Regions from separate parts of the Homo sapiens genome. Here region 2 is linked to region 1. Evidence: fine-mapped expression QTL. A gene starts in region 1. The other region holds a variant in brackets. All regions are shown on one strand. Distances are from middle to middle.

Evidence for each region.
Region 2: its variant is fine-mapped to the expression of CDH23 in caudate (GTEx, PIP 0.90).

Annotation. Positions count from the first base shown.
Region 1 is chr10:71,394,759-71,399,268 of GRCh38, reverse strand. CDH23 (cadherin related 23) reads right to left here and starts at 2,349. Exons shown (of 70, transcript NM_022124.6): 1 at 1,951-2,349. RefSeq lists an enhancer at 1,546-2,057 and a silencer at 2,741-2,830.
Region 2 is chr10:71,596,283-71,600,282 of GRCh38, reverse strand. All of the region lies in intron 9 of CDH23 (cadherin related 23), which reads right to left. Among named protein-coding and RNA genes, the nearest start is that of CDH23-AS1, 86 kb to the right of the region's middle. The variant C/T (reference allele first, on the strand shown) is at 2,361.

The DNA.
Region 1 (4,510 bases):
GTCTGCATTTCTAACAAGTCCCCAGGTGATGCCGACGCTGCATGTCCACAGGCCACACTCTGAGGAGCAAGGTTCCGCTACACCTTCACCTCCCAGAAGAATGTGCATTTTAAATGAGCACTTCAGGAAGGTGCCCTTTAAAATACTTGGCTCAAATAAATGAACCTCAAATGGTGAAACTGCAGGTAAGGTAGCTTGTTGAGTGGGGGAGCTATTCCAGAGGCAACCAGGACCATCTGCTATCACAACCCTCAAATCAAGCCCTTTGGTAAGCAGACGTGAGGAGCCCAGCTGTTTAGAGGTGAGGAAGGCCAAGTCTGAGAAGTATATGCGGACCCAGCACAGACGGGGCCAGGATGCTAGCTCTGGGCCTCCCACCCCTCACTGCTGTCCTCCAGCACTCGAGGCAGAGCTTCCTGGTTCACACCAGTGGCTTCTGTGTGCCACCTTCCCAACTCACGGGGGACACCCACCCTCTACCACGAGACACTCTGCCTTCCTGCCCTCCCCAGCCCTGGCAGCCAGAACCAAGCCTTGCTATTCCCCCAGGCAAGGGGCCCCTTCCCAGCTCCTCCTTGGCAGAGTAACATCTAGTGCCCCCACCCCTGTAGGTGCTGACCGCAGTGCGCCTACCCCTGCACCACGAACCAAGCACTAACTCCAAGCCAGCTCTCCCCATCGTGGGCTGACTCATCATCACCATGCAACTGGCCCCAACTAGGTTCTTAAAGCCCGCCCCACCCCACACCCCACAACCTAATTCTTCCCTGTGTGAGGGTCTGACTCCACCCAACACACACACACACACACACACACACACACACACACACACACACACACTCCTGTGTCTCTCTAGCTTATTTCAAAATCCAAATTAGGGTTGGGGCACTTCCCAAGGGGCTGGAAGGCGAGGTCAATGTCAATGCCAGCTCTGGTCTGAGAGGGCAAAGGACGTAGAAAAAGAAGGCTCTGCTTTCTGAATTACTAGGGAGGATGGGGGAGTATTACTACCGAGGAAAGGCTAATTTCCTCCCAGTGGACCGCTGACAGCACTAGGGCTGGGGCTGGGGTCGCAGTGGGGCGGCGGCTGGCATCGGATCTCCGCTCACAGCACGGAGGCAGCCTCTCTAGGTGCCCGCTCCGAGAAAGCCAGGCAGAGTCCCCGCCGGCTGGCGCCGTCACTGCCTTGGAACACGCGGGCTCTGCTCGAGTCCTGGGCTGACCTACGGTGGAGATGAGGGGCAGTGCTCCCGGGTGCCAGCTCCTGGGGGCAGCCAGCACCGCTCGTAGCGGACCAGTTCCAGGGCCAGGAAGGCGAAGCGAGAGCCGCAAAAGGCTCCCGGCTCCTCGAGGGGCGCGTCTTCCCATAGCTGGACCGAATTTGGGAGGATGTGTAAGTCCCCTGGGGTCTCCCGCGGGCACAGGGACTTGATGAGGGGAGGGGAGAACTACGTGCCTTTAGTTCCCCTCAGCGCCTCTGCCCAGCCCGCAGTAGGGGTGCGCCCCACCCCATCCCCACTGTCCAAATGGGGACCCAGGGCTCAGAAGGGGAGGGGATTGGATCCCAACGCGCTCCACTCTCGAAAATCTCTCCACCCCAGACCTGGACCCTCTCCGTAGCGCCGAGAGCAAAGCCCCCAAATGTTCGCGGTCCCAGGACCGGGGATGGGGGATGGGATGCCTGTCCTCCCAAGGCCAACGCGAATGGAATTCGAGTTCCCAGGAATCAAAGTTGCCGCGCGTCGGGGAGCTCGGAGCGGGGCGCGAGGCTAGGGCCAGGGGCCTGGGACCGAAGGATGCCGCGAGCGCCCGCCACGGGCGATGGCCGCGCTGGGAACAAGTGGTTCGGCAGCCGCGGTCACCACCAACTTCCCCGCCGCGCGGCGGGCGAACGGCGAGGGGAAGGAGAGGGAAGCGAGGAGGGAAGAGGCGGTGCGTGGCTCCGGGTACCGTGTGCGTGTGTGCAGCGGCGCCGCGCCTCGCCTCGCCTCGGGCTCTGCTCTCCGCCGGATCGGCCCCCGCGGGCCGCCTGCTCTGGCCCTGGCCACCGCCGCGTCTTCCCGCCGGCGCGAAGGCTCATCCGCGGCGTGCCGGCAGCTCCTGGGTCTCCGCGGGCCGCTCGCCGCTCGCCGCTCGCCGCTCGCAACTTCAGGCGCGCCGGGGGCTCGGACTGGGCGCGCCCCAAACGTCCAGAGGCTCTGCCACCCCGCGCTCCATGCCCAGGCCGGGCTGACTAGCCCCGACCACCTCAGCGTCCGGCCGCCGTCGGACGCGTCCTCTAGCCAAGCATCGCGCCTGCAGCCCGCGTCCCTCTCTCCCGAGCCGCCGCCGCCGCTCAAGTCCGCGATCAACTTTCCCTTGCTTCCCCCGCCCCGCTCGGCCCCCGCCCCGCTCGGCCCCCGCCGTCCAGACCCCGCCTCCCGCAGCTCCCTCCCTCACCTCCCGCCTCGCCCGGCCCCCGCCCGCCCGCCCGCGCTCGGCGCTCCCCCACCCCTCAGGCCGCCAGGACCCCCGAGCTCCCGCCCGGCCCCGCCCGGACCCCCGGGAGCGGCGCCGAGCCCCGCCGGGCGCTCAGGGCATGAATATTTCAGTGCTGGCGAAGCTGCCCTCTGCCGATGTCATGGCACCGGCTGCTGTGGCAACTCTACGAATCCCCCAAAGGGGCAGGGAGGAAGCCCGCGGAAGAGGCCCCAGGTGCGAGACAGAGCAGTGCCCCGCCAGGCCGCCAGCCGTCCCGCAGAGGGGCGCGCAGGGGGATGGGGCCCCCAGCGTCTCGTCCGCCCCGCGCCTCAGGCAGAGCGAGGTAACGCTCCCGGGAAGCCCGGGCGGGCGAGCGGGCGCTCGGCCTAGGTGAGCCCGCGCCATCTGTTGGCTTTAAGCGCCCCCTCTCTGCTCCCAGAGTCGCTGAGCAGTCCCTCTAGTCCTTGGGGCCTCTTGGCCTACGCTTCTCTCCAACCAGCTGCCTTTGCCCACCCGACTCGTGCGCTCCCATCTGCGCCTCCTCCCTCACTAGAGCTCAAGAGGCCTCCAAGTGCTTAGAAATGGAGGACCCCGGGTTGGAGGAGACCCGTGAGGTCACTTAGGCGCCCTCACCCCTGCGGGAGCTCCGTCTGCAGTGCCCGAGTCATGGTCTCCCGGCTCCTTTTTGCACACCTATAGGGACAGAGACTTTATGGCTTTCTGAGACAGCTGGATCAAGAAAGGGTCCATATGCAGGTAATGGAAGAGGTTTATCCCCTACCTTTGATCTTTACTTCCCCGGGGCTAAGCATTCTGATTTTTTAAAACTATTTCTCACATGACAGGATTTCCGAGCTGTCACTGTTCCAGTCAGTACATTGACAGTACCTGCCTGGAGCCAGGCTCTGGGCTGAGACTTTCTGGGCCTCAACTCATTCTATCTTCAATAAAGTCTTTCTGGTGGGCCCTGCCATTATCCCAGTTTTACAGTGAGAAACAGGCTTTAGGAGGTTGGGGACTTGCCCCTGTGGTGGAGTCGGGTATTGAACCCAGAATCTATCTGGTTCCAAAGCTCCAGTTCCTTACCATTCGCTCATTCATTATTCATTCATTCATTCACAGTCACTGCTATGTGCTAGCTAACTGAAATAGTTTCTAGGAATAGGATGGAGAACAAAACAGGCTTGGTCTTTGTGCCCCATGAAGCTTCTCTAGTAGGGGAACCAGACATTCATCAATGAAACACATAAGCAGGTAAAATTACAGCCAGAATCAGTGCTAGGAAGAAGAGTGCTTTAATGGCGCCTGGCCGAGGGGATCAGGGAAGACCTCCTAGAGGAGGTGACTGAGCTGAAGGATGAGCAAGGGAGAGAGAGTGGAGTTTTAGGCAGGAGAAACAGCATGTGCAAAGGCCCCAGGTGCCCACTGCAGGCAACGGCTGGGCCAGGAACAATGGTTTGGTGACCGCAGTCGCAATCAACTTGTGCAAAGGTGGGAAGGAGCTGGCATATGTCAGGAAGTCCAGAAAGGGTGGGGAGAGCTCCGTGCCTCCAGCGTACGAGGAAACGCTCCTGGGAAGCTTGGGAGGGTGAGTGAGCCTGCACCATCTGTTGGCTTTAAGCACCCCCTCTCTGATCCGAGTCACTGAGTGGTCCCTCTAGTCCTTGGCAGTGACTGTAAAGCCACAATGGAGTGGGGGCCAGACTGTGCAGGTGTGTTGGCCTTAATCAGGAGTTGATCTTTATCCTAAGACTGAAAGCTTCAGAGGCCGGGCTTGGTGGCTGACACCTATAATGGCAGCATTTTGGGAGGCTGAGGCAGTAGGATCACTAAGACTCTATCTAAAAAAAAATAAGAGAGAGAGAGAATTGATTGGGAGGCAACAGTTGATGAGAAGAGACTGCTTCAATTAAAAGTATTTATTTGTCAAATACTATGTGCCAAGAAATTTTCTAGACCAGGGGTGAGCACACCGCTACCCAGAGGTCAAATCTGCCTCATCACATGTTTTTGTAAAGAAAGTTTTAGTGGCACACAGACATGGCCTGTT
Region 2 (4,000 bases), 200 kb before region 1:
CGCCTGTAATCCCAGCACTTTGGGAGGCCAAGGCAGGTGGATCAACTGAGGTCAGGAGTTTGAGACCAGCCTGGCCAACATGGTAAAACCCTGTCTCTACTAAAAGTACAAAATTAGCCGGGTGTAGTAGCACACATCTGTAATTTTAGCTGCTCGGGAGGCTGAGGCAGGAGATTTGCTTGAACCTGGGAGGCGGAGGTTGCAGTAAGCCGAGATCGCATCATTGCACTCCAGCCTGGGCAACAAGAGTGAAACTCTGTCTCACCAAAAAAAAAAAAAAAAAAAAAAAAAAGGAAAGACATTGAAGGTGTAAATGGGACTATTCCCACAGTTTCCCTCCAGTGGAGTCTCTGAGCATACAAGTTAGATGTGTCAAGTGTCAGAGGTGGAAAATGGAAAGATGCTTAAAGCCTAGCAGGTTCCAACTTTTCCTTCATCCCCTGGAGAAGTGAGAATCAGAGATGAGAAGTAACTTGGTCAACAACACACAGCACGTTAGAAGCAGAACTGGCACCAGATGGGTGGACCAGAAGTCTGGCTCAAGTCTGGACTCCTGTCCAGGCCACAGGTCAGATGTGGCTCTCTGGTCTGCTTTGAGAAGCTTTGGGGACCACACATAAAAGTTTTACTATGGAAAATTTCAAAGAAACACAAATGTAGAGACAAGAGCACAATGAAGCTCTCGGTACCATCACCCAGATGCAACAATCATCAAAATTTTGCCAATCTTATCTTAAAATCACCCCCCACAACACTACCAATTTTTCACGGTGTTAACAGAGGAAATCCCAGTTCATCTTTACATACTGTATGCATCTCTCATAAGGACTTTCAAAAATGCAACAAAACATGCCATTTTCACCCTAAATAAAATAAATGATTCCTCAATGTCACCTAAGACACAGTCCACATTCAAGTCAGGGATGCCATTTTTGAAGCCAACGTCAGGATCAGAGGTTTTTACCTTTTCTGCTCAGCGCTCACAGAACAGGCCTCTGAGATGATTGAAATCAAAGAAAAGGTGCCTTCAACAATAGCTGCAATGTTCCCTTTCTTAAACAAGAACAAAAAGAAGAGCAAAAAAGATCCAAAGCAAATATGGCAAAATGTCAACAAATGTTATCAGGGTGGTGAATACATGGGGGTGTGCTGTGTTGGTTTCTGTACTTTTCTAAATATTTAATATTTCACATTTGCCAGTGAACTTGGCCCTGCTTCTCTGACAAAGGCCAGGGGTCCCGGGCTGGGATGTGGGGTGGAGTGTGGGGTGGGGTGGGTGGTTGGCCATTTCATCCCGGCAGCCTGCCTCCAGAATGCCCTCATCCTCCCAGCTGGAGGCTCAGCCCCAGATGTCATATTATGTCCCAAGCCCTTGGCCCAGTGCCCCACACCAAGTAGGCGTTCAGAGAATGCTTGATGAATGAGCCCAGCCAGATAGGGAGGGATGTCCCAAGACGCTCCCATCCCTTGGCTCACACAGGCAGAAACTTCTGCTGAGCAAGCGAGAAACAGGAAAAAGAGAGACGTCCTTGCCTTTTCGACCAGGGAGGAGGCTCCACAACCCAAATCTTTCCAAAGCCTCTGGCCGCTTTTTTGAAAAAGAGAAGTCACAGGAGCGACTTTTGGGTCTTTCCCACTGGGCCACCCTACAGATGCGTGGCCTGGTGTCCTTCTCAATTACATGGGTTCCTGGCCCTGCCTCCTTCCCCATCAGCTGTTCTGGGTTACAGACCCCTAGTCTGTCGGCAGGAGGGAAGGCAGGCTCTCTGGGAAGTGCTCCAAAGCAGTGGATACCCTATAGCACTCCCACTCCAAACTCTGGGCATAGGCCCTCCTGGAGAGGGCCCGGAGCAAAGGGTCCTGCTACAGACAGATGGCGTCACTTGGGGTGTTTGCAAGCTTGAGACTCAGCACTCATAGAAAAGAGGAAGTAACCTCTTTGCTTGTGGAGGAAGCTCTTGGCACTGCTCCTGGCACCAAGCAGAGCCTCAGAGCCCAAACACTGTCCCCAGCCTAGGCCAGAACAGAGGGCAGCCTTTGATCTTCAGCTCCCTCTACAAACCTCTGCCCAGATGTACTCACTCTCCCTCCCAGCACTAAACCCCAAGCAAGGTCAGCTGTGGCCTCCCCAGCCTACAGGCTCCCGTCGGAAGATGACTTACGGCTTTAATTACGAAAGGCCGGGTGGAGCCTCAGGAAGGAGCCAGCCCCACCATGCTTGGTCCCTGTCGACGTGGAGCTGCCAAGTTGGCAAGGCTGGTACTGGTGCCTGCCTACACATTGCCACACCAACCCCTACTCTCTGTGCTATGGCCAGGCCCTCCCCTCCCTTCCCAGTTGCCCACAGCCTGGGCCTACCC[C/T]GCCTTTGAGGGTGGGGGTGGGGCGGGATCATGGATACAACAGAGTACACACTCTGTTAGAAGAGAGGCTCTGAGGGCGACAGTTTTGTCTGTCCTGTTCATGGCCATATCCCCAGCAGTGAGTACGAGAGGTGCCTGATAAATATTTATGAATTATCAAATAAGTCCAAAGTCCTGTATTGCAAAGGTGGACAATGGTAGCCATTAAACTGTCTAGCAAGCTAAAGGCAGAGCCAATAGACCAGAAGCAACTACCCTGACCCCCAGGGCCACACCTCTCCTTCCTCACTGCTTGGTGGATGAGCTGCCAGGTCCTGCCAATCCCTACTGCCCTCCTGCACTGAAAGGAGCCTCCTTGGGAGGTAGGTTCCAAGGACCACCACAGCAGGCTCTGAGGAGCCCCTGCCCCTGTCCTTGACAGCCCTGTACCTGTGGCAGCTTCAGGGCGGATGAGGTGGGGAGTGGGGAGGGAGAAGTAATGGTGAGGACAGCTGGGGCAGAGTAGCCCCAAGAGCCAGGTGGGAAACAGTCCCTTTCTCAAGCTCTGGGCCTCTGCTTTCTCATCTTGGGGCTTGGAAAGGCTCAACTGGATGATATCCGGGTCCCTGTGGCCTGTGACAGGTGAGGTCCATGAAACCAGCCCCATGTTGGGAGAAAGACGGAGACCAGCTAGGGGACAGAGGAGGTGGCGATGCCTGCTCTGCTCCCCACCCTCCCGGCCCCAGGACTGCCATCGGTTCCTGCCCAGGCCTGGGTTATCAATCTCCTTCCACCTGGAGAACTCCCCTAAATGAAATTCCTGTTGGCGTGGGGCCTATGATATAACAAGTCAGTCACTTTGCCTGGGAAATGAAAGATGATGAGGCAGAGTTCCCAGGACAGAGGCGACCTCCATAAATCTGCCAGAGTGTGCTGGGGATTACTTTGTGGGATTAATTATCTGTCCTTCAAACAAAGACCTGACCTCAGTGGCCCAATGTCCCCAACCTGGGAGGGAGGAAGGGAGTGCCGGGCAGCGGGGAGGTGGGGACCGGGGCTGGGAGGCAGGCCCTGGGGCGGGCTGGGCAAGGGGCATTGTGGAGTGCCAGTTCAGCACTTCACTCCTCCTGTAAGATCCTACGTGCTCCCCCCTGCCCAACACGGCAAGTCCACCTGGCTTCCAGCACTTTCTGCAACTTGGCCCTTTGTGACCTATCCAACAACTTTGTGACCCATTCCCATCTGCTTCTCATGTCTGTCCAGAGCAACCCTACCCTCAGCTCCTCTCCTGGTTACCCCTCATGCTGCCACACTGGAGGGAGAGGGGTCCTGGCGTGGAAGGGAAGGGTCTGTGTACAGTGGACCGAATAAAGGCTGGATCAGGGGCCAGCCAGTATCTATCACTTTACCAACCATATGGCCTTGAGTTTCCTGAGCTCCCTGAGCCTCAGTTTACCCATCTGTGTGATGGAAATAGTAGAGGCAGGGTCTGCACATGACAGGGTTGTCATGACCATCCAATGAGGAGGGTGGTCCCTGAGGACTTCAGACTCATGCAGACCTGGGTTCGAATCCTGGCTCTGCCACTTCTTGGCCTAGCATGACCCTACATGTTATGTTACCTTTCTGAGCCTCAATTTCCTTATCTGTGAAATGGGGAT